Linked DNA regions of Homo sapiens. The protein of the gene in region 1 purifies or fractionates together with the protein of each later gene. This does not show direct contact. Each region holds a gene or a part of one and is shown on either strand. Other genes may lie near its edges.

What was found.
Region 2: the proteins of DNMT1 (region 1) and HDLBP purify together in Homo sapiens (affinity purification with mass spectrometry; 2 studies listed by BioGRID). This does not show direct contact.
Region 3: the proteins of DNMT1 (region 1) and URI1 purify together in Homo sapiens (affinity purification with mass spectrometry, with the first as the bait; one large-scale study listed by BioGRID). This does not show direct contact.

What each region holds. Positions count from the first base shown.
Region 1 is NC_000019.10:10,135,831-10,139,480, forward strand, and holds part of DNMT1 (DNA (cytosine-5)-methyltransferase 1), read right to left. Parts: intron 2,776-3,650; coding exon 2,609-2,775; intron 2,180-2,608; coding exon 2,002-2,179; intron 1,451-2,001; coding exon 1,255-1,450; coding exon of another isoform or gene 1,246-1,254; intron 458-1,245; coding exon 291-457; intron 23-290; coding exon 1-22. UniProt on the Homo sapiens protein: Methylates CpG residues. Preferentially methylates hemimethylated DNA. Associates with DNA replication sites in S phase maintaining the methylation pattern in the newly synthesized strand, that is essential for epigenetic inheritance.
Region 2 is NC_000002.12:241,239,080-241,242,729, forward strand, and holds part of HDLBP (vigilin), read right to left. Parts: intron 3,600-3,650; coding exon 3,381-3,599; intron 1,230-3,380; exon of another isoform or gene 1,044-1,229; coding exon 822-1,043; exon of another isoform or gene 742-821; coding exon 523-741; exon of another isoform or gene 423-522; coding exon of another isoform or gene 312-422; intron 1-311. UniProt on the Homo sapiens protein: Appears to play a role in cell sterol metabolism. It may function to protect cells from over-accumulation of cholesterol.
Region 3 is NC_000019.10:30,011,697-30,015,346, reverse strand, and holds part of URI1 (unconventional prefoldin RPB5 interactor 1), read right to left. Parts: intron 3,063-3,650; coding exon 2,816-3,062; intron 461-2,815; coding exon 278-460; 3' UTR 1-277. UniProt on the Homo sapiens protein: Involved in gene transcription regulation. Acts as a transcriptional repressor in concert with the corepressor UXT to regulate androgen receptor (AR) transcription.

The DNA.
Region 1 (3,650 bases):
GCTCTGGGTGGAGCACGCGGCCCTGGGGGAAAGAGGCGCGGTGGGCGAGGGCAGTAGCACCCAGGCCGGGTCACCGTCGGGGACAGGGAGGGAAATGGCACTGTGACAGCATACGGCCATGGCCTTGGCCTATGAGCTTGTCCCGTGGACGTGGAGGGGCAGGAGGCAGAGGCCAGGTGCCTGGGGTCCTGGGGTGCTGTCCCCCACTTGGCTAAACCCACACTTCCACCTAGTTAGGCCGCCAAGTACAGGGCCTGACCCAGGCCCTCGGATGCCCCCTCCCCACCTACCTGCTTGCCCATGGGCTCGGGGTTGGTGACGGTTGTGCTGAAGAAGCCGTCCCACTCGAGCCTTCCATAGAGGCCAGCCCAGTGGTTGTGCCGGTTCCCGGTGTGGGGCAGGCACCAGGGGATGAGGGTGTTGAACTGCCTGGCTGCGGGGTCGCAGGCTTTGCCGGCTGGAAGACAGGACAGTGATGAGGCTGCAGTTGTGGGATGGGGTATAGGCTTGGGACAGTGGCTCTTAGAGCTTTGGGAGGCAGAGATGGCACCTCCTGTGCAAGGGGCCCCCTGGGGTGGAGCAGCCAACAATCCTCGTTCTCTGGGCACTGTTTTTATTATTAGTATTATATGTCTCGCTCTGTTGCCCAGGCTGGAGTGCAATGGCATGATCTTGGCTCACTGCAACCTCTGCCTATGGGGTTCAAGCGATTCTCCTGCCTCAGCCTCCCAAATAGCTGGGATTATAGGCGTGCGACACCACGCCCGGCTAATTTTTGTAGTTTTAATAGAGATGGGGTTTCACCATGTTGGGCAGGCTGATCTCGAGCTCCTGATCTCAAGTGATCTGCCTGCCTTGGCCTCCCAAAGTGCTGGGATTACAGAGGTGAGCCATCGTGCCTGACCTGCTTTTATTATTTATTTATTGTTTTTTTTTTTTCTTTTTAGAGACAGGGTCTCACTCTGTCTCCCAGGCTGGAGTGCAATGGCACAATCACAGCTCACTGTAGCCTCCTCAACCTCCCAGGCTCAAGTGATCCTCCCGCCTTGGTTTCCCAAAGTGCTGGGATTATAGGTGTGGGCCATGAACCCAGCCTGCTTTTACTACTCAACATGGTCAGCAGCTACCTTCTCTGGGACACCCAGGCTTGGTGTGTCTGTGCCCTGCCCTGGCCTCCAGGTTCACAGGCCAAAGGCCCAGGGCTCTGCCTTCCTTCCCCTCAGCCCACCGGGAACCACAACTTACAGGACCCACCTTCCACGCAGGAGCAGACCCCACGGAGGGCCCCAGAGCTGCTGCGGCCGTTCTTCCTGTCATGGTGGGTATACCGCAGCTTCCTGGCCATGGTGCCGTCTGAGAGCCGCACCTCGATGTTGGGCAGATCGCGCCAGTCTGACCCTGGGGCCAAGGGGATGTGCCGCATGCGGGCAGCCACCAATGCACTCATGTCCTGAAAGAGTGTGGGGGGCCCAGCTGTCACCTCATGTGAGCAGCATCCGAGCATCCATGGTGGGCTGGGAGCTGGGAACACCATGGTGACCAGGAAGCCCCCTGGGGCTCACGCCCATCGGGAAAGAGACAGTCAGGGATATCGCACTTGGCTCGAGGCCACGGCAGGGACCTGAGGCAGCGCAGGTGTAGGAGAGCGTGGGAATCTAAGCTGAGCCTTTAGGGTGGGGGAAGGGGAGTGGTGCCAGGGGATGGTGAAAGGGCTGGTCTTGGCATCCTGGGAAAACATGCGGGGAGAGGCAGCAAGGGGGAAGGCAGTGGTGGGTGGGCAGTGGCTTGACACCATTCCAGACCAAGTCCAGGACTGCGGGAGCTCTGACACTTCCCATGACCATGCAAGAGAGACCAGGGGTCACACAAAGGCTGAGGACTCGGGAGGAGGAGCCTGGGATCAGATTCCATGTCTCCCCTGAGTCTTGGGCAGGCTGACTGTTCCCACGAGGCTGCTGGGCTGGGCCTCGAGGAGGAGCCGCTCTGTCAGGGTGCCATTACCTTACAGATGTGGTCCCTGAGGATGGGCTGGTACTGTGCGCCCCGGAGCTGCCTCTGGAACCAGGACTGAGGCTCCCCGTTGTAGGAGATCTCCAGTGCCGAGGCTCCATTCCGCACCTCCGGCAGGTCGGACATCGTGTCTCGCACCGTGATGGTCCGGAAAGGACCCGAGCTCAACCTGCAACAGAGGAGGAGGTCAACACCTCTGGAGATGCACGCAGCAGCTGTCCCCTCATCACAGGTGCCACCCCCTGCCTGCTCAGATGGCCTTCTCCCGAGATCACAGCACTGCCCGAGGTCACATGGGTGGCAGTGTGCCTGGATGCCATCTGGAAGGGGGGATGGGGCTATGGCGTGGGCTTTGTGGATGACCACAGCCAAGCATGCGGCTGGCCGCTCTGCACATGCTATCTACTAGGGAAGCAGATGATGCAGGGTCAGAACTGGAGACCACAGGTGGCAGAGTGCCATGTGGCAGAGCACCGTGTGGCAGGGCAGATGCTGTACCATCCTCTCCTCCCCAAGCCTCACCAGGGAGTACTCACGGGCCCCATGAGCTACTGAGGCCTGCTCGGCAGTGTGTGGAGGAGCGACGGGGGCCACCTACCTGGTTATGTTGCTCACAAACTTCTTGTCATCCACCACCACGCTCAGCTGGCAGGCCCGGGGAGCAAACACGTGCAGTGGCTCCGGGAACAGAGGGAGCTTCTCTCCAGGGGCCGCGGCCAGGATGATGGCCCGCCTCCTAGTCTGGGCCACGCCGTACTGACCGGCCTGTGGGGGAGAAGGACGGACAACCCCACCGTCAGTGGGACACTCCCAACTGGACTGGCCAGACCCAGGCCCAGGGTCAGCAGCCTGAGTCGGGAGTGGCTGGCCAATGCGGAGTGCACTTGCAGAAATCCCCAGTTACCTCAGCAGGCGTGCTCCTGGTCAGAGGAGTTTGGAGCAGATAAAGAACAAAAGCAGCTGAGCCCAGGGGACAGCCACTGGGGAAGGTGGGAGCAAACCCTGCGGGGAAGTCCGGCCAGCTCTGAAAGCACTGCAAGGGCCCCAAGGTCTTAGCACTCGGGGAGAACACTGGAGACCAGGAGCCCTGTCGCTTCCCTGATGGCTGTGGTCACAAGGACAGAGAACGTGGCTGCAACAAGTCTTGTCTGGTGAGCCTGAGTCGCCCTGAGGCTGAGCTAGGGGACCGGGTAGCCAAGTGCTTGCCCACTTAGGCAGACATCCTGTGCTAGCATCTGGATAGCTGTTTCATTTTTAATTATGCCCTCAATTGCTGAGCTGATACAGAGAGGATGGGGGATGCTTTTCAGATAAGGCCTGGGCCCCACAGACTATGTCCATCCCTGTCCCTGCAGACACAGCCACCTGGAGTGCAACCCTCGGCCATCTGTGGGGGTTTGTGTGCGCAGTTACCCAGAGCAAAACTGTCTTTTAAACCAATCGAACAGCTGCCGCCTACACATGGCTCTGCGCACCTCACTTCCCCTCCCGCTCTGTGCAGACTCAGCCATTCCACAGTGCTCCATGGTGGGCTGCTCACCCTTCCCCATCGAGGGAAAGGAGCCAGGAGCTGCATGGCGAGAAGCCCATTGTAGCCAGCCCTCCCAGGCATGTTCGAGAACACAGCTCAAGAGACACTA
Region 2 (3,650 bases), on another chromosome or scaffold:
AGGAGGCATCAGACTTGATTATTAGGGAAAGGGAATCCAAGGCCCTGGCAGGGGAGTGGCCTGGAGGGGACACTCTCTAAAGACTGCTTCTAAAGACCACGTCTTCTCATGACTTCCCATGGATTCACGTGGATGCCCTCAAATCGATTTTCTTTCCTTCACAGAGGGGAGAAGAGAGCTGACCCCTTAGACTGCATTTTCATTTTTCCTGATCCCTTATACAGAATGCATTTTCTTTCTTTCTCTTGCTTTCTTTCCTCTCTCTCTCTCCCCTCTCCTCTTCTCCTTCTCTCTCTCTTTTTTTTTTTAAGTGCTTCTCGCAGGCAGAATTCTCACCAACTATCAGGAAGGAGGCCAGACAGGCTGAGGAAAGAAGAGCGAGCACCAGAAAGCCCCTTCTGAAGCCTTCCAGGGCTGTATGAGGGAGTCACCTCCCTACAGGGTGGAGCGAACACTCATACACGGCTTCGGTGAGTGGCCACTGGGGGGTGAGAACCCCTCCCCGAGCACCCAAGTGCCTACCAGGTCCTCAATGATCTCCTGAATGCGTTTCTTGGCTGCCTCCACACAGTCCTTGGCGCCCTTGAGGGTGACTTTGTCGCTCTGTGTGCCAGAGCGTGGGAAGCTGACCATCACCCCGCCATACTCTTCAGCAATCTCCCGCAAGACCTGGCCTCTGCGGATGACGAAGTGGCGGTGGTGCTTGGGGTCCACCAGCATGGAGTCTTCCACCACATTATCCTGCAGTGTTAAGAAGAGATGGAAGATAAGCCACCCCATCACGGCCCCAGCAGAGTCGGCCGCCGAGGCCCGCTCCCTACCAGGTTTTGGATCAAGGCCTCCAGCTCCTTCTGTGCCTCTCGGACGGCGTCCTCCTTTCCAATGATGGTGATCAGGTCCTGGTCCTTGTCCTCAGCCGCAGGGAAGATGACACGTGCTCCAGTGCTGTCGCGCACCTTGCGAATTTTGCCGCCCCCCTTGCCGATGAGGAATTTGTGGTATTCTGGCTTGGCGCGGATGTCAACAGTGAAACTCTTGGTTTGCTGCAGAAACCAATCCCACTGTGTTAGCCTGACACCACGTGCCTGGACCACAGTGAGGAAGACAAGAGGGTCTGTAGGACAGCAAGCTCGGGCTCCCCTTACATTGTCACCAGTGTCCTGATGTTGCACCAATACCCCCAAAATGGGGCTAGCACACCTCACTGAATAAACAGATGAATACCCAGACTGCACACCTACTTCTCTTCCACAACAACCAGATGCTGGTGGGATGAACACACAGGCTTAGAACCCTGGTCCTGCCACTTACAAGCACTGACCAAACTTCTCCAAGCCATTTTTGATCTGCACAGGGGGAGGTGGGAGCAACGCGCCGGACGATATGTTGGCGGAGTGCACGTCCTGGGGAGCGTGGGGTGTGCCCAGCAGAGCAGGAAGCAAGCTGCCCAAGAGGTGTGCACCATGCTCCCACTCTTCTACCTGCTTCCAGACCAAGCACACACAAATCTGGGCCAGGCTCCCTTTCTTCCCACGAGTGCTACAGATCAGCCTCCACAAAACCAGCCACTCCCCAGGCTCAAGCTCAAGCTCAGAGGGACACAAGCCAACCAAGGCTACAGTTAGAGACCGGTCCTCAGAGGCCTCGTGTAGTGCGACGCCCTTGTGTGGCAGTAAGAAAACGAGGGTCCTGGAAAGGCCCCGGACACTGCTTGTGGACACCAGTGCTTCTGGCAGACCCACGCAGGGGCCCCGAGAAGGGCGCTGCTCCACGGGACTCAGGTCCACACGGGGAGCTCTTGCCTTTCTCCGGACCCAAGATCTGGCCCGCAAGCAAAAATACCAAAGAAAAACATGCTAGCACAAAAATATTAAATAACAACTTTGCTACCTTTTAAGTGCAGGTTTCACCAAATACCACCTAGAGACTCTGCTACTTTTCAAAGACATCCACAAATAGCAGCATTAGTCAAACATTAGGCAATCAATTAGGCAAATGCAATCTAGCAATATGGCCAAAGACAACCTACCAAACCAAGCAGGGATTACCCCAGAAACGCAAGGCTGGTTAAACACAAAGACAAAAACATCAATCTAATAACAACAACAAAAAAGACAAGAAATACAAGGCTCCAGATTAGAGAGAAATGTAACTGTCCACAGACCACGTGATTGTGACATATAAAATAAGGATCCACAAAACAGTGGGCCGGGCGCAGTGGCTCACGCCTGTAATCCCAGCACTTTGGGAGGCCGAGGCGGGCGGATCACGAGGTCAGGAGATCGAGACCATCCTAGCTAACACTGTGAAACCCCATCTCTACTAAAAATACAAAAAATTAGCTGGGTGAGGTGTCGGGCGCCTGTGGTCCCAGCTACTCGGGAGGCTGAGGCAGGAGAATGGCGTGAACCCAGGAGGCGGAGCTTGCAGTGAGGCGAGATTGCGCCACTACACTCCAGCCTGGGCGACAGAGCAAGACTCCGTCTCAAAAAAAAAAAAAAAAAAAAAAAAAAAAAAAAAAAAATCCACAAAACAGTGACTGGCGCTAATATACATGAGCTTTATTTAGCAGCCTCGTGAAGGTCAACATACAAAAACCACAGGCACTTCCATGTGCTAACAACTGGAAATGGAAAAAAAGTGCCATTTACAATAGCACTAAAAGAGTAACAGTAGTTAGATCTGTTAAGTCGAACATAAAAATGTGCTAAAAATTATAAAACACCAATAAAGAATCACAGACCTAAAAAAAATGGAGAAATGCCTGCAAAAGTCAAAACTGCTGAGCTGTCAATCCTCGCCAGTCTCATCTTCAAATTTCACACAATCCCAATCAAAACGTGAAAGTGCTTTTTTCCTACAAATTGACAGGCTGATCAGCAAGGGGTGTAGAACAGCCAAAGTTAAGAGGGCTCACACTACTGATTTCCAGACTTCCCATAAACCTGGTGTCACCAGAAGAGCCCGGAAACATACCCACAGATGGGTTTTGACACAAGGACAACAGCAATTCCATGGGCAATCTTTAGGGGTGATGGAAAATGAATTTTGATGATTGTGGTCACATGACTGCATGTTACTTAAAACTCAACTATACCTGAAGAATGGCCAATTTTACTGTAAATCATATTTAAAAAACAAAAGCACCCCAAAACTAATAAGCCAAAGACCAACTTTTATATATTGCATATGTGAGCGTTTGGACCTGGAAAGGCCCTCCAGTAACAGCAAAAACAAAGACGCATAAACAGTACATTATAGAGCTGTTTTCTGACCCGCCACAAAGGAAGGGCATTCAGGGGTTTCCACAGTGAGAAGCGAGAACACTGTACTGAGGACCAGGCTTCCTGCCAAGAGTCACGCTCCCTCCCCATGCTCACCTTCTCCTCCGCCAGATGCAGGAGCTGCTTCTTGGCCTTCTCCACATCCGAGGAAGGGCCCCTGATAACAACGGTGTCGCTTCCTGAACCTTCCACGGGAAAGTGAATGTGGACCCCGCCGCACTCCTCCATGATGGAGCGGATCAGACGGCCCTTGGTGCCAATGAGGGAGTTGTGCAGCTTGGCAGGGATGGAGACCTCTACCTCGGCTATGTTGGCCTGAAACCAAACACAGGGCAGGAGGAGGAAGTCACATTTTTGTGGCAAAAA
Region 3 (3,650 bases), about 20 Mb from region 1:
TGAAAAGTAATTCAAAATGCTGCCACTGCATCATAAAGGCAAACTTAGATAAGAGTGTTGACAGTATTCAGAGAATTCACAAAACAAGCTGATATTAAAGTATTCAGACAGTTACCTTGATTTTTTTCAAATACCACGGGTAAGGGTAAAAGAACTTGTTGCCAAAGTAACTCAGGATACCTTATTTCAAACTACATGTAACCTATTTTGCTATAGATACTCTAAACAAATGAACAACTAGGTTTTAGGATGTAAATTCCCATTTCCTAGACAGGGCCTAGTCTTTCTGTTGCAATCTGGCAGCTTTAAACTTTGAAACCCTCTTTCCAGTTTCTTCAGATGCTTCCAACAGAACTTCCTTTCGTTCTGGAATAGTGGGTAGTGCGGGATGAGCAATGGCTGGGGGTGGTGTTAAGGAAGGTGATACAAATTCTTTTTCTATAACAGTTCCAGAAAAAGCCTAGAAAACAAAAGTCAGGTTATGGTAATAAAATGCAAATAAGACACCCACAAAATCTTCCCATTCACTCATTTGGCAATTCTTTTCATTAAAAGTAAATTCACGAGATTTTTGGCTAGACAACACTACTACACCAAAATACTAATTGTTCAGAGAAACCAACACCATTAAGTTTTAATTTCACCACCAAACAGAAGTAATTTTTACAGTATACATGCAAGAAAACAAAATGTAAAATGTAAATTTTATCTGGGAAAAAAAAGAAATGGATAAATAAAAGGTCTTCAAACTTTCATACATTCCATTCATGTCCAGCCCATGCTGTGAAAAATAATGTATTAAAATAAAAATGCTATTAGGGTGTCAAACTCTGACTTTTGTACATCAGTTGATGAATGAGCTATCCTATGATGGCCTTGCTGCCTGCTAGCCAATAGCTTAGTTTCACCAGTACTGACATTTCTAACTGATATCTCTTTGGTGGTGTTTATGCAATTATTTAAATATTTTACTGCATATTGCCTCAATTTTAAAAGATCAGTGGAAGTTGAAAAATAAAAGTGCTGATACTAGTAGGAATAAGTACAGGTTTCAAAATTTTAATATAATTAACTCAATGACAGAAATCAGAAGTTCCACAAAAAAAGAAATGACTCAATTTCACCTGGATGTTTGCTGCATTTAATCTGGTCAACTATATGTTCAACTGGAACAGAATTAAAGAATGTGCATAAATTGCTGGAAATATCTGTACATGTCGTTTTATACAAAAATAGGTAAGACACAAGGAGTTAATTTTTTTTTTTTTTTTAAGATTGCTGGTATTTAGAACCTCCATCCTTCCCTCTACAAATGAAAATTTGACAGGTGAACTTTAATGTACATTTTGTTCTCCTCTGTCTACCAAGTGCTCAAAATTAGTTAAAACAACGTAACACCTAAATAATTTAAAAAGCCACCTTCTTCTACCTTGCCCCACCACTGAAACAAAAACAAAGAAAGCCATCTCTCTCCTACATTATTTTTGGAGTTCAACTGGTAAAAGCAGCTTAAAGCTTACTTTCCTAAAAACTCCACTTTATCACGATGAGCATAGAGCCTTCTTCTCCTTCTTCTATTTAAAATGCCTTTGAAAAAGAGGTATTTTAGCATTTAAAAAGATACTGAAAAGGATATCTTCCAAAGTACTTACCATAATCATGAACTATTTCTTTGATGTTAAAAAATGTATAGCAACTACTATTAAACATTTCCATACAAAATGCAAAGCTACTAAGGGTGAAATAAAAAATAGGTTCCACACTCTAGCTGTACCATGATACACTAAGTCCTTACAAAAAACTAATTTTCAAACATTTATCAGCAATTACCTGATAACATCCATTACCTGTTTTCTAACAGTATGGAAGACTATCAAATAAGGTAAGATACTTTCCAGGTCACCTAAGATCATTATACTAAGAAGAGGGGAAGAAAACATTCTAGTCATATGTACTGTCCCTAAATGCTACCAATCTCCATCCCCAATTACCATTTAATACACTGAGTATAATACCATTTAGTAAAAGCAATGGAATTTTTAGATAAGGTTATATATATGCATGTATCTTATTGTATATACAAATGTGTACACTGGTTTGATCCAGGCATGGGTTCCCCAATCTTCCTAAATACTTTTTAAATTGAAAACTTCAAATACGCACCAAAACACAAGAATGAAGAAATCAATAGCCTTATATTTCACAGACATCCTTATTTGGGGATTTCCTAACCTCCCCTGCACCACCACCAAAAACTGTAAGAAGTGTGGTGGGTGAAAGTGTATTGAGTGTGCACTATTTTTTCTATGGACAGGGTCTACAGCTTTCATCAGATTATAAAACAATTCCATAATCCCCCAAGAGTTAAGTTTCACTGGTACAAGGTAAAATATTAGACTTTAGGTAATTATCTGCTATGCATGCATTATTTTTCTTTAACTTAGCCAAGGTATTTAAAAGAGAATAATGTAATCTGCTCCTTACACTATCAGAAAATGACCTACTGGTAATTTATTTAAAATAAACTGCGAAATAATTTCCTAGCTACAAATGTAATACATAATGCCAAGTAAGACATTTTAAATTTCCCATTTTGCTGAAATAGAACGTTAAGACAAGTAATGTGTTTATCAAAAAATAAACTATTTGATTATCACAATATTTGTACTGTTTGTGACTATTAATTTTTTATTAATTAGTACCAAGAAAGTATAAAACCTAGAATTAATTTAATCTTATGACTTTTCAGATTAAATAGCTAAAACTGGTCAAAGATACTATATGAAATAAAGAATTAAAAGATACACACACACACCTCAGGTGTTACTGATAAGGGCAAAAGTTTCTTTTGATTTTCTTGTGGTTCCTCTTCCAAAATGCTCTCACTGGTGTCACTGCAAGTGGCTTCTTCGCAGCTGATACTCCTCAAAACTCCCCGCCTATCATCAAATTCAGCAGCACTGCTTTCACTAGTGTCGCTACACACACTATTCTCTCTACTTCGAGACTTCAGGATGGATTTGCGAGGGACATATTCTCCATTCACAACATCAACAAAGGCTCTGTGATATTCAAAACACATATGCATTCACTATACGTAACTCATAAAACTGAGAACAACTTTTTGAAAATTTCCTTGAATCTATTCTAGAAATTAATCTGAAAATTTTTATTACAATCTTATATCTAAAATAGTCACAATCACAATAATTTTATAGCCTCAAATGGTATCTTCATACTATTTTGAAAGCTATTTCTCTGGCCTAATAATAAAACACAGCATGTTATTTATTTATTTTATTATACTTTAAGTTCTAGGGTACATGTGCACAACGTGCAGGTTTGTTACATATGTATACATGTGCCATGTTGGTGTGCTGCACCCATTAACTCATCATTTACATTAGGTGTATCTCCTAATGCTATCCTTCCCCCCTCCCCCCACCCCATGACAGACCCCGGTGTGTGGTGTTCCCCACCCTGTGTCCAAGTGTTCTCATTGTTCAATTCCCACCTATGAGTGAGAACAAAAACACAGCATGTTATTTTTAAGCATGTCCTAGGTGGCAATAGCATGGTTTGCCAAAATTCTACATAAAGTTTTAGACCCACGTATACATTTAGCAATTTTCACTGATTTATAAATAAGG